Regions from separate parts of the Homo sapiens genome. Here region 2 is linked to region 1. The links come from fine-mapping of genetic effects on gene expression. Tissue or cell type: lymphoblastoid cells. Region 1 holds a variant in brackets; the other region holds the start of a gene. All regions are shown on one strand. Distances are between the middles of the regions.

Region 1 (8,106 bases):
TCTCACTTGTGTGTAAAAAAAAAAAAAGAAAAAGGAAAAAAAAATTTTACAAATCAAAAAACTGTTGGGCAGAAAGTTTGGGGAAACTAACCAGAATTCAAGTGTAACCCTGGTGTGATTTAGAGTTAGGGGAGAGAACAAGGAAAATCTTACTAGGGCTCCATTTTTAAAAAATCACAATTCCTCATGTAGTAGATTAGCTGAGACTAACAGAAAACCAGGAAATAGAAGCAAAAGGGAGATGCAGCTTCAGCAGAGCCGAAGTACACCAAGTGAAAAATGGCTAGAAACTGGGAATGAGGCTGGGACACATGCACATGACCTGCCCTCCAGATAGAGACTTTATTTGTTTTGACTGATTGATTGACACAGGTTCTTGCTCTGTCACCTGGGCTGGAGTGCAGTGGCACAATCATGGCTCACTGTAACCTTGAACTCCTGGGCGCCCGTGATCCTCTTGGCTCAGCCTCCCAAGTAGCTAGGGCTACAGGTGCACACCACCACGCTGGGCTAATTTCTGTATTTTTTGTAGAGGTAGATCTTGCTATGTTGCCAAGGCTGCAGGTACAGATTTTAAAGGAGGATTCAACCATCCAGCTATCAGACAGAAAGCAGAACCAAAGGAAATCCTCACTCACTCTGCTTGGTAACAAACACTGAATCTGAATAGCTATCACCCTGTTCAAAATTGAGCACGGAGAAAAAAAAATCAGCATGGGACCTATTAAAAAAACAAAACAAAACTATAAAACAAGTGAAAGAAAAAAGTATAATAGAGGTTCAGAAGTTTTGCATAGGTCCAAATGATTTTTTGCGGAAGCCAGGAAAAAGTTCTAGGAAATTGTTGGGTATCTTAAGTGGAAGTGAGTGAGTCATGAGCTCTGTAACAGAAGAAGATGAAGGTAGGCTAAGATGGAAGATAAACTAGGTGTGATGAAAGAGGAAAAAGAAAAGGAAGGGTTGAAAGGAAATGAAAAACACAGGATAAGGAGTAAAAAAGCAAAATTAATTCTGTCAAATTAAAATTAGCAAAGGAAGACAAATGTAAATAAATTTCTCAGGCCAGGCACGGTGGCTCATGCCTGTAATTCCCGCATTTTGGAAGGCCGAGGCAGGCGGATCACCCGAGGTCAGGAGTTCAAGACCAGCCTGGCCAACATGGTGAAACCCCCGTCTCTAATAAAAATACAAAAAATTAGCTGGGTGTGGTAGTGGGCACATGTAATCCCAGCTACTTGGGAGGCTGGGTCAGGAGAATCGCTTGAATCCAGGAGGTGGAGTTTGCAGTGAGTGGAGATCGCACCATTGCACTCCACCCTGGGCAACAGAGTGAAACTCCGTCTCAAAATAAATAAATAAATAAAAATAATAAATAAATAAATTTCTCAGATGCAGAGGATAAAGACAAAGACCAAAAAAAATGCTCACGAAAAGACAAAGATGCATATTCAAAAACATTCATCAACATTGTTACTTCTGATAGAAAAGAAAATCGAATCAAGCTAAATGTGTAACTAGAGGACCAATTAAATAAATTGTAGGATATTCATACATATAAGGTAGGTTTCCTTTTGGCTGCAAGCAGAAGAATACACACCCACTATCTCCCATTAAAAGAGTACTACCACAGAATCGCTCATAGAAAAAGATGTCTGGGTAGGCAGGTCCAGTTTTGATGCAGCGGTTAAGGATGTCATCTCAGACTAAAGTTCTTTCTGCCTCTCTGTTCTCATCCTCAGCATGTTGGCCTGTCACTTTTAGGCTCGTCAATTTGTGGTCACAGTACAGCTGGAATGGCTTCAAGTACCACATTCTCCTTTGATTGATTCAAAGGCAGGAAGCAGGGTTGCAGGTAGGGCAGTAAAAGCCTTGGTCGTCAGAACATCTTTTTCATCATTCCCTGCAGACTTCTTTTTAGAGTTCATTGATCAGAGCTGGCACATTTGGCCACCTCTTGCTGTAAAGGCTTAGGGAAACGAGTGTCTGCTGTTCTCAGTCTCTGCATTAACAAGGGAGAAAGGGGCTGGGGATGGCCTCTGGGTGGTCAAAAATATAACATGAGTACTCCATTGCTATTCAAAATGATATACATCAATCTTTGACTGCATCTCTGATTATTTCCTTAAGATAGAGTCTTGAATAGGAATTTCTAGGTAAATCATCATGAGCCTTTAAAAAGTCCTGGTTATGTCATGCAGTTGATTTCCAGAAAGCCAACAGAAATAGATATGTGTCAACATGTATATCTCCTGATGCCCGCACCAGTACTGAGTGAAAAACTTTGCTGAATGTTCCTGTTTGTCTGAACTTAAAAGGAGCACATGCATAGAACAAAGAGCCAGCATTTGTTAAATAGCAAAGATAAGCTCATCGAAACTAAGATAAAATAGGCCAGGCACGGTGGCTCACACCTGTAATCCCAGCACTTTGGGAGGCCGAGGTGGGTGGATCACTTGAGGCCAGGAGTTCGAGACCAGCCTGGCCAACACGGTGAAACCCTGTCTCTACTAAAAATACAAAAACTATCAAGGCGTGATGGTGCACATCTGCAGTCCTAGCTACTCATAAGGCTGAGGCAGGAGAAACACTTGAACCCAGGAGGTGGAGGTTGCAGTGAGCCGAGATTTGTGCCACTGCAATCCAGCCTAACCAATAGAGTGAGACTCTGTCTCAAAACAAAAAAAGGAAAAAAAGCCTAAGATAAAGCAAGAATGTTTCCTGTCCTCCCTCATTTCTGTTTAACAGAGATACTAACCATAGAATCATTGGATTCTTAAAAAAATGAGGAACAAATATAGGGAAAAAATAACAATACAGCAGGATTTTTGGATGACATGATCATAATTAGACCATGCAAGTAAAAAAAAAACACCTAAAAATCTATAAGGGAAATAAGGGGGGAGTGGAGAAATAGAAGAAATGAGATAAGCAAAATGTCGATAATTGTTGAAGCTGGATGATGAGTATTTGTGCAAGTTTTAAACTTTTTATAATAAAAGTTGTTTTTCCAATCTTATTGTGTTAAAATATAAATAACATAAAATTTACCATCTTAGCCATTTTCAAGTGTACAATGCAATGGTATTAAATACATTCATAATGCCATATGACCATTACCACCATCCAGCTCCAGGACTCTTTTCACCTTGCAAAACTGAAATGCTGTACCCATTAAACTCCCCATTTCCTCCTCCTTCTGGTCTCTGGCAACCACCATTCTACTTTATGTTTTTATCCATTTGACTATTCCAAGCCTTATATAAGTGGGATCATACAGTATTTGTCTTTTTTAGACTGGCTTCTTTCACTTAGCATAATATCCCAAGGTTCATCACATTGTAGTGTATGTCAGAACTGCCATCTGTATTAGTCCATTTTCACACTGCTGATAAAGACATACCCGAGACTGGACAATTTACAAAAGAAAGAGGCTTATTGGACTTATAGCTCCACATAGCTGGGGAGGCCTCATAATCACAGTGGAAGGCAAGGAGGGGCAAGTCACATCTCACATGGATGGCAGCAGGCAAAAAGAGCTTGTGCAGGGCAACTCTCATTTTTTAAAGCGTCAGATCTCATGAGACCCATTCACTATCATGAGAACAGCAGGGGAAAGACCTGCCCCCATAATTCAATCGTCTGCCGCTGGGCCCTTCCCACAACGCACAGGAATTGTGGGAGCTACAAGATGAGATTTGGGTGGGGACACAGAGCCAAACCATCTCACTATCTGTTTTTTTTGTTTTTGTTTTTGTTTTTTTGAGACGGAGTCTTTCTGTTGCCAGGCTGGAGTGCAGTGGCGCAATCTTGGTTCACTGCAACCTCTGCCTCCTGGGTTCAAGTGATTCTCCTGCCTCAGCCTCCTGAGTAGCTGGGATTACAGGCACAAGCCACCACACCCAGCTAATTTTTGTATTTTTAGTAGAGACGGGGTTTCACCATGTTGGCCAGGATGGTCTCAATCTGTTGACCTCAGGTGATCCACCCACCTCGGCCTCCCAAAGTGCTGGGATTACAGGCGTGAGCCACCACACCCGACCTTTATATATATATACATTTTTTTTTTAATCAACACAAATATTTTAAAATACCATACACTTAAAAGGAAGTTCAATTCATATCTTAGACGTCAGGAATAAAGGAGTGGCACTTTCTGTTGTCCACCAGTTTTCCTGTTTCTAATCTGAATATTCTTTCCTAAAAAGATGGATGTGGGCCAGGTGTGGTGGCTCATGCCTGTAATCCTAGCACTTTGGGATGCCAAGATGGGCAGATCACTTGAGGTCAGGAGTTTGAAGCCAGCCTGGCCACCATGGTGAAACCTTATTTCTACTAAAAGTACAAAAAAAATTAGCCAGGTGTGGTGGTGGGCACCTGTAATCCCAGTTACTTGGGAAGCTGAAGTAGGAGAACTGCTTGAACCTGGGAGGCGGAGGTTGCAGTGAGCTGAGATCACACCAGTGCACTCCAGCCTGGGCAACAGAGAGAGACTCCATCT[CA/C]AAAAAAAAAAAAAAAAGAAAGATGGATGTGACAGATGGTTGACATAGTATTAAAGGTGCCTCCTGAGCCATGACTCAGCTATGTTGGTGGCCCTGCTAAATTTGTGGCCAGGGCACCTCCTCCCTTTCCCCCAAACTGGTTTCATCTCCCTCGAAGCTGGTTTCTCTCCCTCAAAGCTACTACTGCAGAATTAGGGGCTTATTTGGTATGGGTTTATTACTTCCTGTGACTTAGAATCTTGGAGAATTCAATACTTTTTAATTTAGCTTCTTTGTTTTATCTAATAAGTTTAGTAGATTAAAATATTCTTCTGGCCAGGTCAGGGTCTAACCACTATAGGGTATCTTCAACTCAATGTACATTTTAACCGAAACACACTCAGCATCTCACCTAAACACGATCAATATGGGCCTCTATTGTATCTTTTTCCAAGGTAATATGATCCTGACAATATTCTCTGGAAAAATTTCACTCATAGACTAACCCATATTTTTGTTTTTCCTCATTCCCACCCTCAAAGGTAATATGAATGCAAATAAAATTTAAAAGAACCTCCCATGGAGAGGAGACATTGCCATTTTCCATGAGGTACAGAAGCCCACGTTTCTGAGTTGGTGGACACAGTGGCACAAGTAGGAAGTTTTAGTTTTGAGGGTTCCTTTCTTCTCCCTCTTCACGTCAATGTACTTTGGTTGTCTAAAATGCGTTGAAAGCCTTATTTTCTGTACTTTATGTCTCTCACAATGTCATCTAAAAACATTAATTGGCATTACAACATTAATCTTGCTTTTACATAATTTTAAAAAAATTAATTATTTTTTTTTCTTTTGAGACAGGGTCTTGCTCTGTTGCCCAGGCTGGAATGCAGTGGCACAATCACAGCTCACTGCAGCCTCGACCTCCGGGGCTCAAGCCATCCTCCCACCTCAGCTTCCCAAGTAACGAGACTACAGGTGTACACCACCATGCCCGTCTAATTTTTTTTTTTTTTTTTTTTGTAGAGATGGGCTTTCACCATGCTGTGTCGGCCATTACCCAACTCCTGGGCTTAAGTGATCCACCTGCCTCAGCCTCCCAAAGTGCTGGGATTACAAGCCTGAGCCACCGCGCCCAGCTGTTAATCGTGACTTAATACATGTGCATCTTCCCCTGTTTCCTGTGTTTGCTTTCATAAGTCCACTGCTCCTGCTGTGAAGATGGGTACATTCATCTGTCATAGCTTAATGACACCACCTTAAAATTTGCAGATGGGTTCATATACATCTTATTATTCACTCACTCATATATTAAAAAATATTTAAGTATCTACTATGTACCAGGCACTGTGCTGGGTCCTGGGGATACAGAGATGAAAAAGATACCAGGAGGCTGGGCGTGGTGGCTCACGCCTGTAATCCCAGTACTTTGGGAGGCCAAGGTGAGTGGATCACTTGAGGTCAGGAGTTCGCGACCAGCCTGGCCAACAGGCTGATGGTGAAACTCCATCTCTACTAAAAATACAAAAACTAGCCGGGCGTAGTGGTGCATGCCTGTAGTCCCAGCTACTTGGGAGGCTGAGGCAGGAGAATCGCTTGAACCTGGGGGAGTGGAGGTTGCAGTGAGCCAAGATCGTGCTTGGGCGACAGAGCAAGACTCTGTCTCAAAAAAAAAAAAAAAAAAAAAGACACCAGAAGCTCACAGACTTGATGGACAGGCACATAAGCCAATAAAATGTGTTCAAAGCAAACTTCTGATAATGGCTTGGTTTCTAAAGAGACTTTTTTTAAAAAACTGGGAAGTCAGGATATTGACTAATGGACACTGGAATTTTGTTCATTTGACAGTTTTATTGTGTGTGTGTGTGTGTGTGTGTGTGTGCATAAAAAATGAATACATTTATATTTTGGCTTATGTCCTATGTCTTAAGAGCATGGCTAGCACTTAATCTTTAATACGGGTAACTGGACAAATGTAAGGTTGTGACCCTTAAACTTGAACCCCATATGCATTCCCCCCTGGCGATCACACCAAGGCTCAGACAAGCAGGGCAGTCTGGTCTGGTCCGTCGACTGTCCTCTTTCTCCTTCTCAACATATAGAACATCCCATTGGTCACAAATGCTGGATAAATGAAGGATTGCAAAAGCTCAAACTTTTTTCTTTTTTGCTTGCATTGATGTTGTAATTAACACATAGGAGCTGAGCTTTTTCCTGTGCTGACTTGTAATTTTGGCATCGTTCAAACTGGAAACGGGTTCTAATGGTATCAGTGTTATTTCCTGGGCAATAAATATCTAAAATAGAGAAGTGAGTCATAGGCCCAATGAAACTTATGAACCAAGATTAGTCACGCGGATAGTGGAGCTGCTTAACATCAATATAACTTTCTCTTCAGGTCGTTTCCCACAAAATTGGGTGGAAAAACCCACTCCTATTGCTCAGTTGGGCAGTTGCAACGATGAGCTAAATCAATTGTACTCTGGCAGTACTGTAGTAATAGCTGTAGTTTAAAAAATCACGGTAGTTAATCCACTTTGTTTCAAACTCTTCTATATGCTTTAAAAGGTATGAATTGGCAGGGCGCGGTGGCTCACGCTTGTAATCCCAGCACTTTGGGAGGCCGAGGTGGGCGGATCATGAGGTCAGGAGATTGAGACCACGGTGAAACCCCGTCTCTAATAAAAATACAAAAAAAAAAAAAATTAGCCGGGCGTGATGGCATGCGCCTGTAGTCCCAGCTACTAGGGAGGCTGAGGCAGGAGAATGGCATGAACACAGGAGGCGGAGCTTGCAGTGAGCCGAGATCTCGCCACTGCCCTCCAGCCTGGGCGACAGAGCGAGACTCCGTCTCAAAAACCAAAAACCAAACCAAACCAACCCCCCCCCCAAAAAAAACCAGAAAACAAAAAGGTATGAATTATTAGGGATATAATATCCAATTAAGAAGAAAGATGTTAAAAAATGACTCAGAACTATGGCAAAAACTATTCTATTTTGGAGGTGTTTTGAAATTAATTTTAATTTATGGGTGTTTTGGAATGAAGCAGTCCTGTCCTCTCAAAAAGCAAACAAACAAACAAAAGGGCATTGTGATTTTGATTGCTTTAGAATGTCAGTAGGACTAGTTAGTCAAAGTCTATTTCTAAAACATACCTCCTTTTCGTCATTGCAAAGGAGAAGTACACTTTACTTTCAAGGCTGACTTTGGGCATTGAGAACACAGAAAGATGATTTCCTACATTCTTAGCTAATTAATTTTAAGTGTAGCTGGAAGCCTGGTGAGGCAGAACTTAAAGAAGATGCTACTTCTTGACTTTTAAGCAGAGGCAGCAAATCACTTACAGTAAAAATTACTCAAGGAAATCACTCAATTGGCTTTTTTTGCTATGGAATTGTGACTTTTTTCCTATAATGCCCTAGGGAAAGAATATAACTGTACCTCCCTTCCTTCCAATTTCTTCAATGTCCATAGCTTTAAAGAAGAGGTCAAAATTTTGTATAAAGGACTCAAGAACCTCTCGAAAGGACAAGCTCTAAGAGTCCAATCTCTTACCACTCTCAGCGTCAAGGTTAGGGCACCTTCATTGGAAGGAAACTGCACGGTCCAGTTCTAGACTTGGGGGCAGAT
Region 2 (8,106 bases), 92 kb before region 1:
AAAAAAAAAAAAAAAAAGTCATTTAAAAACTGAAGAATGTTCTCTTCTTGCTCAGTTCCCTAAATTAGCTGGGGGGATTGGGATACTTTACAATTTTTACATTTTTAAATTTGAAGAATTTGTTTTAAACTTACTTGGTAATGGCACTTCTACTTACTGACCAACTTTTCAGCTCTTTTTGACCAGGATGGTTGCAAATTAGGGAAAATATCTTTATACTATACATCCAATTCAAGAGGACTTTAATTACTTAAAAGCATTTAGGTCATAATTAAAATTATTTTCACTGTTTCCATAAAATAAGCATTATGATTGCACACTCCTTCTACTGTCTGAATTTATGTAAGAGGTATAGCTTGCTTAAAATACATATATATGTAAAGTTATATTTTCTTAGAAACATGGATGTTTACAGCCATTGCTTTCAAAGAGATTATTACTGTGTATTCTCCCTGTTTTACAATATGTTTTCATGAAGACTATGTTACACCAGAGGCTTCTGATTATCAAAGTGATAACCAGTTTTAACTGCCGGTATGTACCAGATTTGTGAACTAATTTAAAAAACCACAAACTATGAATAAAATGGGGTTTGCAAACTAAATATCATTAATGATTTTCACTTGCGTTTACTGATGAGATTAATCAATAAAGCCATTTACATTTAGTGAAAGCAAATTTCCTCAAGTGATCTCCCTGGTAGCATGTTTACTCACTATGTGGAGTGGAGATAAGAATTACTTTATTGCTACAGATATTTTACAATTAGTATTTCTATGTAAGCACATAGGCTATTATCAAGGACAATTTATTTAGCACTTATTTTGAAATTATATGTAAACATGCAAACAAATAAGAACCCAAGAGTATAAACTCTATGACAAAAGTCAGTATGCAAGCATTAAGAACTCTTTCAGAAATGTGTATTTAAAATGACCAGAATTCCCAGATCATTTGAAAGCTGCCTCTTAAATGCCTCTTATCAATTCATCTTAAATGTTTGCTATATTAAATTCTTTATCCCTGAGTGCCTTCATTTGACTTCCAATTACGTATTTTCAACTATTAATTGGCTATCCCATTATGTTAAAATTAAATATGTACATAACTCAAAATCTTTCACTACCAACTAATTTCTGTTTCTCTCAATATCAGTGATATCACCATTCTCTTAAGTATCTCTATTTCAAACCTTTGAGTCTTGAGTCTCCTTTTCCATAATTTCCTTTATCCAGTCTGTTTAGTGGAATTCAAGCTTGTTCTCTCAGGACTGATTTGAGAAACCTAAGCATTCCTAGCCCACCTCTGGGGTAAGCTCGCCATCTCTGGACTGTTTGAGCTATGCATTCCTATAATTTAACTACACTTAAGTCAAAAGTATATTCAAGACACAAACTCGCTATTCTTTGAAAAATGCAAAACAGGGTTTAAGCAAGCATACCTAAGTGCACAACAGATCCGGAAGATCACCTCATACTTTATACCAAAGTCTAATTTAGATCCAGTTATTAAGTTCAAATGCAGCAAAAGCAGCAAGATATTTTAGCCAACTCAAAAACATTTTTATAATAATTTATAAGTCCTGGGCGGGCATGGTGGCTCGCGCCTGTAATCTCAGCACTTTGGGAGGCCGAGGCAGGTGGATCACCTGAAGTCAGGAGTTTGAGACCAGCATGACTAACATGGTGAAACCCCGTATCTACTAAAAACACAAAATTAGCTGGGCATGGTGGCACGTGCCTGTAATCCCAGCACTCGGGAGGCTGAGGCAGGAGAATCGCTTGAACCTGGGAGGTGGAGGTTGCAGTGAGCCGGGATCATGCCACTGCACTCCAGCCTGGGCGACAGAGTGAGACTCCATCCCCAAATAATAGTAATAAGTCCTTTCAGTAATTACAATTATTCTTTCATTGCTTCTTCCAATTGTTAATTCATAAGTTGTACATAATTGTAACAATATAATTGCTCTCTTCATATTATTTAAAATATGCCTTTTCATTCAATCTAGAAATTTTATATTTCTCAATTATATTGCTTACATATTATTCTGATAGACAGCTGTACCTGCTTAAACATTCCAATTTAAGTAGGCATGAAATAGTACATCCAATCTGTTTTAGTTTTCCAAATTAATTGTTAGCAAGATTAGCCCCCATTTTTTTTTTTTTTTAACAGATGGGAGTCTCATTATGTTGCCCAGGCTGGTCTCAAACTCTTGGGCTCAAGTGATTCCCCCACCTCAGCCTCTCAAGCATTGCTGGGACTACAGGCATGCACCACCGCTCCTGGCTAAAATCTTGTTTTAAGTTTCTTCCCTCCAACTTCCTCTTGCGTTCTTGGTGTTCTCTAACCATCTCTACAGGGGGGAGGTGGTGATACACAGCACATGCTTCCTCCTTATCTAATGTCACCTTCAGTTCAGAAACGATATGTTTTCTAATTAAAAGACAACTTTACAAGAGAAGCGTGCCTAACAAAATGTGTAGATGACTTTTTATTCATTGATTCAAAAGACATACATTCAGCCCCCGCTATTTACTGGATATTAAGCTCTGGGGCTACATGGAAGGACCACGCAGACACTCTTCATGCCTTCAACGGCTTACAGTTAAGTTTTTCAAACATTTGAAACATAACGAAGCTTTTGGTTACTTAAAAGAATTCTATGGTATTAGGGAGCAACACCTGTTTTGTAAACCTATATCTTCATACAGGGAATATGCTTAATCTTGCTACAGTATACATGAATGCGGGAATGTATCTTCCTCTGGGCTGCCTTTCGTTACCACTTGGCTGGGTGGAACACCTGTTCACTCCACTTTCCACTTGGGCTACAAACCTGAAACGAAATCTTTGCAACCAGTACAGCCTGCGCGGGGCGCGGCCCAGTCCATCCCCCTTCGGATGCGCAGAAGCAGAGGTCACCACGCCGGACCCCTCGATTCCCTCGCGGGCGATTCCTGGCTCCTTCACCACCCCAGCACTCCAAGACCCCCGCCCTTTGGCCTGAGGCTCCCACTGCCCTAGCCAGTTCCCGGGCTCACTTCCAGCTTTTCCAGAAAGCTTGGCCACGCCCCTCGGCCCAGACTCTCAGGCCACTCGGCCGCAATTAACCCGCGTCTCTGCGCCTTTTTAGGCCCCTCCCCCTCGGTCGTGCCCTTGTCATCTCTTAGGCCCCGTCTCACCCTTTCGGATGCCTCCCCTAGAACCCTACCACTTTCCACCCCTTTCCGTCTGTTATTTCTCCCAAACTTGCGCCCGCACAGGCCCCTCTGGAACACTCCTGCCCCGTAGTGCCCCTCGTCCCCGCTCCGTAGAGAAAGAGCGTGCGTGCCGCGCATTTCTGGCCTGGGGAGCGGGTGGAGTAAACCTGCGGGAACCATTTTACGACAACGTGCGGCTGTGCGGTGTGGCTGACGGCAACGCCGCTGCTCTTGGAGAGGTCACTCCGGAGACGGCGTTGGTTTTGGGGTGTGGGGGGTTGGTGGCACTATGTGGCGCGTCTGTGCGCGACGGGCTCAGAATGTAGCCCCATGGGCGGGACTCGAGGCTCGGTGGACGGCCTTGCAGGAGGTACCCGGAACTCCACGAGTGACCTCGCGATCTGGCCCGGCTCCCGCTCGTCGCAACAGCGTGACTACAGGGTATGGCGGGGTCCGGGCACTGTGCGGCTGGACCCCCAGTTCTGGGGCCACGCCGCGGAACCGCTTACTGCTGCAGCTTTTGGGGTCGCCCGGCCGCCGCTATTACAGTCTTCCCCCGCATCAGAAGGTGAGCCCTAGACCCCCCTTCTCGGGACCCCGTTGTCCTTCAGAGCTGACTGGATGCCTGCAAGATCCTCCTTGAGAGGCCTCACTGATCCTCCACCCATTCCCAGTATCTGCTTTGGCCCTTTGTCCAATAGTTGGCTTTGCTGTAGCTCCTTAGTGTCCCTCTCATGATCTATTTCATTGAAAGGAGAGCTTCAAGACTGGGGCTGTATGCAGAATATCTGCCGAGGTTCATGCTTTGTCAGACCCACAGGACTGTGGAGGAGAAAGCCTGTCACTGGAAATTACTAACTTCTCATGGACAGGAACTCCCTTGGCATCCCTAGTTCCCAATGTGCAATGGAACTGTATACACTTTGCATGAAATTGAATTGAATGAAATCTTAAGCCAGACTGAGAGTTAGGTAGTCCTTAAAAATTTTAATGTTTCTTCTTTTCCTTTTCCAGGTTCCATTGCCTTCTCTTTCCCCCACAATGCAGGCAGGCACCATAGCCCGTTGGGAAAAAAAAGAGGGGGACAAAATCAATGAAGGTGACCTAATTGCAGAGGTAAGTTTTTTTTTTTTTTTTTAATTAATTTATTTATTTTTTTTATTGATCATTCTTGGGTGTTTCTCGCAGAGGGGGATTTGGCAGGGTCATAGGACAATAGTGGAGGGAAGGTCAGCAGATAAACAAGTGAACAAAGGTCTCTGGTTTTCCTAGGCAGAGGATCCTGCGGCCTTCCGCAGTGTTTGTGTCCCTGGGTACTTGAGATTAGGGAGTGGTGATGACTCTTAAGGAGCATGCTGCCTTCAAGCATCTGTTTAACAAAGCACATCTTGCACTGCCCTTAATCCATTTAACCCTGAGTGGACACAGCACATGTTTCAGAGAGCACAGGGTTGGGGGTAAGGTCACAGATCAACAGGATAAGAATTTTTCTTAGTACCGAGCAAAATGAAAAGTCTCCCATGTCTACCTCTTTCTACACAGACACGGCAACCATCCGATTTCTCAATCTTTTCCCCACCTTTCCCCCCTTTCTATTCCACAAAACCGCCATTGTCATCATGGCCCGTTCTCAATGAGCTGTTGGGTACACCTCCCAGACAGGGTGGTGGCCGGGCAGAGGGGCTCCTCACTTCCCAGTAGGGGCGGCTGGGCAGAGGCGCCCCTCACCTCCCGGGCGGGGCAGCTGGCCAGGCGGGGGCTGACCCCCCCACTTCCCTCCCGGACGGGGCGGCTGGCTGGGCGGGGGGCTGGCCCCACCACCTCCCTCCCAGACGGGGCGGCTGGCCTGGCGGGGGCTGACCCCCACCTCCCTCCCGGACGGGGTGGCTGCCGGGCGGAGACGCTCCTCACTTCCCAGACGGGGTGGCTGCCGGGCGGAGGGGCTCCTCACTTCTCAGACGGGGTGGCTGCCGGGCGGAGGGGCTCCTCACTTCTCAGACGGGGCGGTTGCCAGGCGGAGGGTCTCTTCACTTCTCAGACGGGGCGGCCGGGAAGAGACGCTCCTCACCTCCCGGACGGGGTCGCGGCCGGGTAGAGGCGCTCCTCACATCCCAGACGGGGCGGCGGGGCAGAGGCGCTCCCCACATCTCAGACGATGGGCGGCCGGGCAGAGGCGCTCCTCACTTCCTAGATGGGATGGCAGCCGGGCAGAGACGCTCCTCACTTTCCAGACTGGGCAGCCAGGCAGTGGGGCTCCTCACGTCCCAGACGATGGGCGGCCAGGCAGAGACGCTCCTCACTTCCCAGACGGGGTGGCAGCCGGGCAGAGGCTGCAATCTCGGCACTTTGGGAGGCCAAGGCAGGCGGCTGGGAGGTGGAGGTTGTAGCGAGCCGAGATCACGCCACTGCACTCCAGCCTGGGCACCATTGAGCACTGAGTGAACCAGACTCCGTCTGCAATCCCGGCACCTCGGGAGGCCAAGGCTGGCGGATCACTCGCGGTTAGGAGCTGGAGACCAGCCCGGCCAACACAGCGAAACCCCGTCTCCACCAAAAAAATACGAAAACCAGTCAGGCGTGGCGGCGCGTGCCTGCAATCGCAGGCACTCAGCAGGCTGAGGCAGGAGAATCAGGCAGGGAGGTTGCAGTGAGCCGAGAAGGCAGCAGTACAGTCCAGCTTCGGCTCAGCATCAGAGGGAGACCGTGGAAAGAGAGGGAGAGGGAGACCGTGGGGAGAGGGAGAGGGAGACGGAGAGGGAGAGGGAGAGGGTAAGTTGTTTTAAAGTAACGGAGATGAGTTCGAAGAGACTGGCTTTGCCTAATTGACTGAACATTGACTTTCTGGATGTGTAGCTACCCCTTTGTTTAAGAAACTGAAGTGTTTTTCACAACTTGATGTTAGACAAGATTGGTTGGATAAGTTGTCAGCAGCTGGCCAAACTGATTTTAACCAAGGCGTTTCTAAAGTAATTTCTTCTTTGAAATCTGTCGTAGTGGCCTTATCTTCACATGAACTGTATAATTCTAGACACAAAGGCCAGGCTGGCCAACATGGTGAAACCCCGTCTCTGCTAAAAATACAAAAATCAGCCGGGCATGGCAGCCTGTTCCTGTAATCCCAGCTACTCGGGAGGCTGAGGCAGGATAATCGCTTGAACCTGGGAGGGGGAGGTTGCAATGAGCCGAGATTGCACCACTGCACTCCAGCCTTGGTGACAGAATGAGACTCTGTGTCTCAAAAAAAAAAAAAAAAAAAAAAAAATTCTAGACACAAGCTAATAAATTACATACCAACAGTACAAACCTGAGCTACTGCTTTTTGTGTTAAAAGGTTGAAACTGATAAAGCCACTGTTGGATTTGAGAGCCTGGAGGAGTGTTATATGGCAAAGATACTTGTTGCTGAAGGTACCAGGGATGTTCCCATCGGAGCGATCATCTGTATCACAGTTGGCAAGTGAGTAGTGCGCTCATAATTTGTGGAACTTCATTGCTTGGTGGAGTATTTTACCCAGAATTGAGAATTAGGAGTTAAAGACTATTTTTTAAGACTACTTTTGTGAAAGCTGAATCTGCCCATTATATTTATGCATTCTTTCTCTTCCTTAGGCCTGAGGATATTGAGGCCTTTAAAAATTATACACTGGATTCCTCAGCAGCACCTACCCCACAAGCGGCCCCAGCACCAACCCCTGCTGCCACTGCTTCGCCACCTACACCTTCTGCTCAGGCTCCTGGTAGCTCATATCCCCCTCACATGCAGGTGAGGCTCAGCCTCTGAGTTTTTGCTCTAGGTGATTACTTACTTACTCACTTTTTTTCATAGATGGCTACTACATCTTGGAAACTGACATTAAATGTGGTTAGGTCTTGTCATTTGGGAGTATATAGGTTTAAACATGAAGATTGACAACTATTCTTCCTGGTTGTTATTTCCAGTTATAAGAACTTGAACAGTTCCTGTAACCTTTCTCAGCCTCAGTGTAGTACACAGGGTAATGCGTGGCACTTTTCATTCAAGAACATTACATTACAGATTTTGAGGATGATTTTTACTAACATCTATTCCCTGTATAATTAGAGTTTATAGCAGGCTGTGTTAGTCTGTTTTACTTTGGCATGAAGAAATACCTAGGGCTGGGTAATTTATAAAGAAAAAAGGTTCATTTGGCTCAAGGTTCTGCAGGCTGTACAAGAAGCAGGGCGCCAGCATCTGTTTCTCTTGTGGCCACAGGAAGCTTACAATCATGGTGGAAGTTGGAAGGGAAAGGGGAAGGGTGGTGTGTCCCATGAGAGAGGGAACAAGAGACAGAGGGGAGTGGGTAACCAGGCTCTTTATAGCAATCAGATTTCCCCTTAACTCATTACCATGGGGCATGCAGCAAGCCATTCACGAGGGATCCTCCTCCAATACCCAGACACCTGCCACCAGACCCCATCTCTAACATTGGGGATCATATTTCTTTTTTTTTTTTTCCACATACAAAAAAACTTTATTTACACAGTCTTGGATTCTGAATCTCCAGTACTTCCAGGGTCTCTTGATCAAATGGGGCAGCAGCAGGCAGGGAAGCAAACACAGGGGCCAGTCCAGATTATCTTACTCAAGAACACCACCAAGAAGGGAAGGCCTAATTCAGTCTTGGTCTGGACTACATCTCCCCGCACTTTGAGATCACCACAGTAGTTTGGGCTTATTGTTGGGGCCTGTGGGAACATTCTGAATCTTTCTCATCACTAGAAGTCCATCAGTGATTTTTCCAAACATTACATGCTTCCCATCCAGCCAATCACACTTAGAGCAGGTGATAAAGAACTGACAGCCATTTGTACTGGGACCGCTGTTTGCCGTGGAAAGCAGGCCTGGAGCTGAGTGTCTAAGTTTAAAATTTTCGTCTGCGAAT

Direction of the effects. Alleles are on the strand shown, and positions count from the first base shown. SD is a standard deviation of normalised expression in the study named.
As copies of C replace CA in region 1, the expression in lymphoblastoid cells of the gene that starts at base 3,428 in region 2 goes up (small effect, 0.30 SD a copy in GEUVADIS).

The links. PIP is the estimated chance that this variant, and not a neighbour inherited with it, causes the effect.
Region 2: it holds the start of DLAT, and the variant in region 1 is fine-mapped to the expression of DLAT in lymphoblastoid cells (GEUVADIS, PIP 0.94).

Annotation. Positions count from the first base shown.
Region 1 is chr11:112,113,791-112,121,896 of GRCh38, forward strand. No RefSeq gene overlaps it. Among named protein-coding and RNA genes, the nearest start is that of SDHD, 31 kb to the left of the region's middle. The variant CA/C (reference allele first, on the strand shown) is at 4,499.
Region 2 is chr11:112,021,981-112,030,086 of GRCh38, forward strand. It overlaps DLAT (dihydrolipoamide S-acetyltransferase), which reads left to right and starts at 3,428. Exons shown (of 14, transcript NM_001931.5): 1 at 3,428-3,771; 2 at 4,218-4,319; 3 at 6,535-6,659; 4 at 6,812-6,965. The coding sequence starts at 3,493. DIXDC1 (DIX domain containing 1) reads left to right here. Exons shown (of 20, transcript NM_001037954.4): 20 at 1-673. It also overlaps the pseudogene PPIHP1. RefSeq lists enhancers at 2,390-2,579, 3,230-3,429.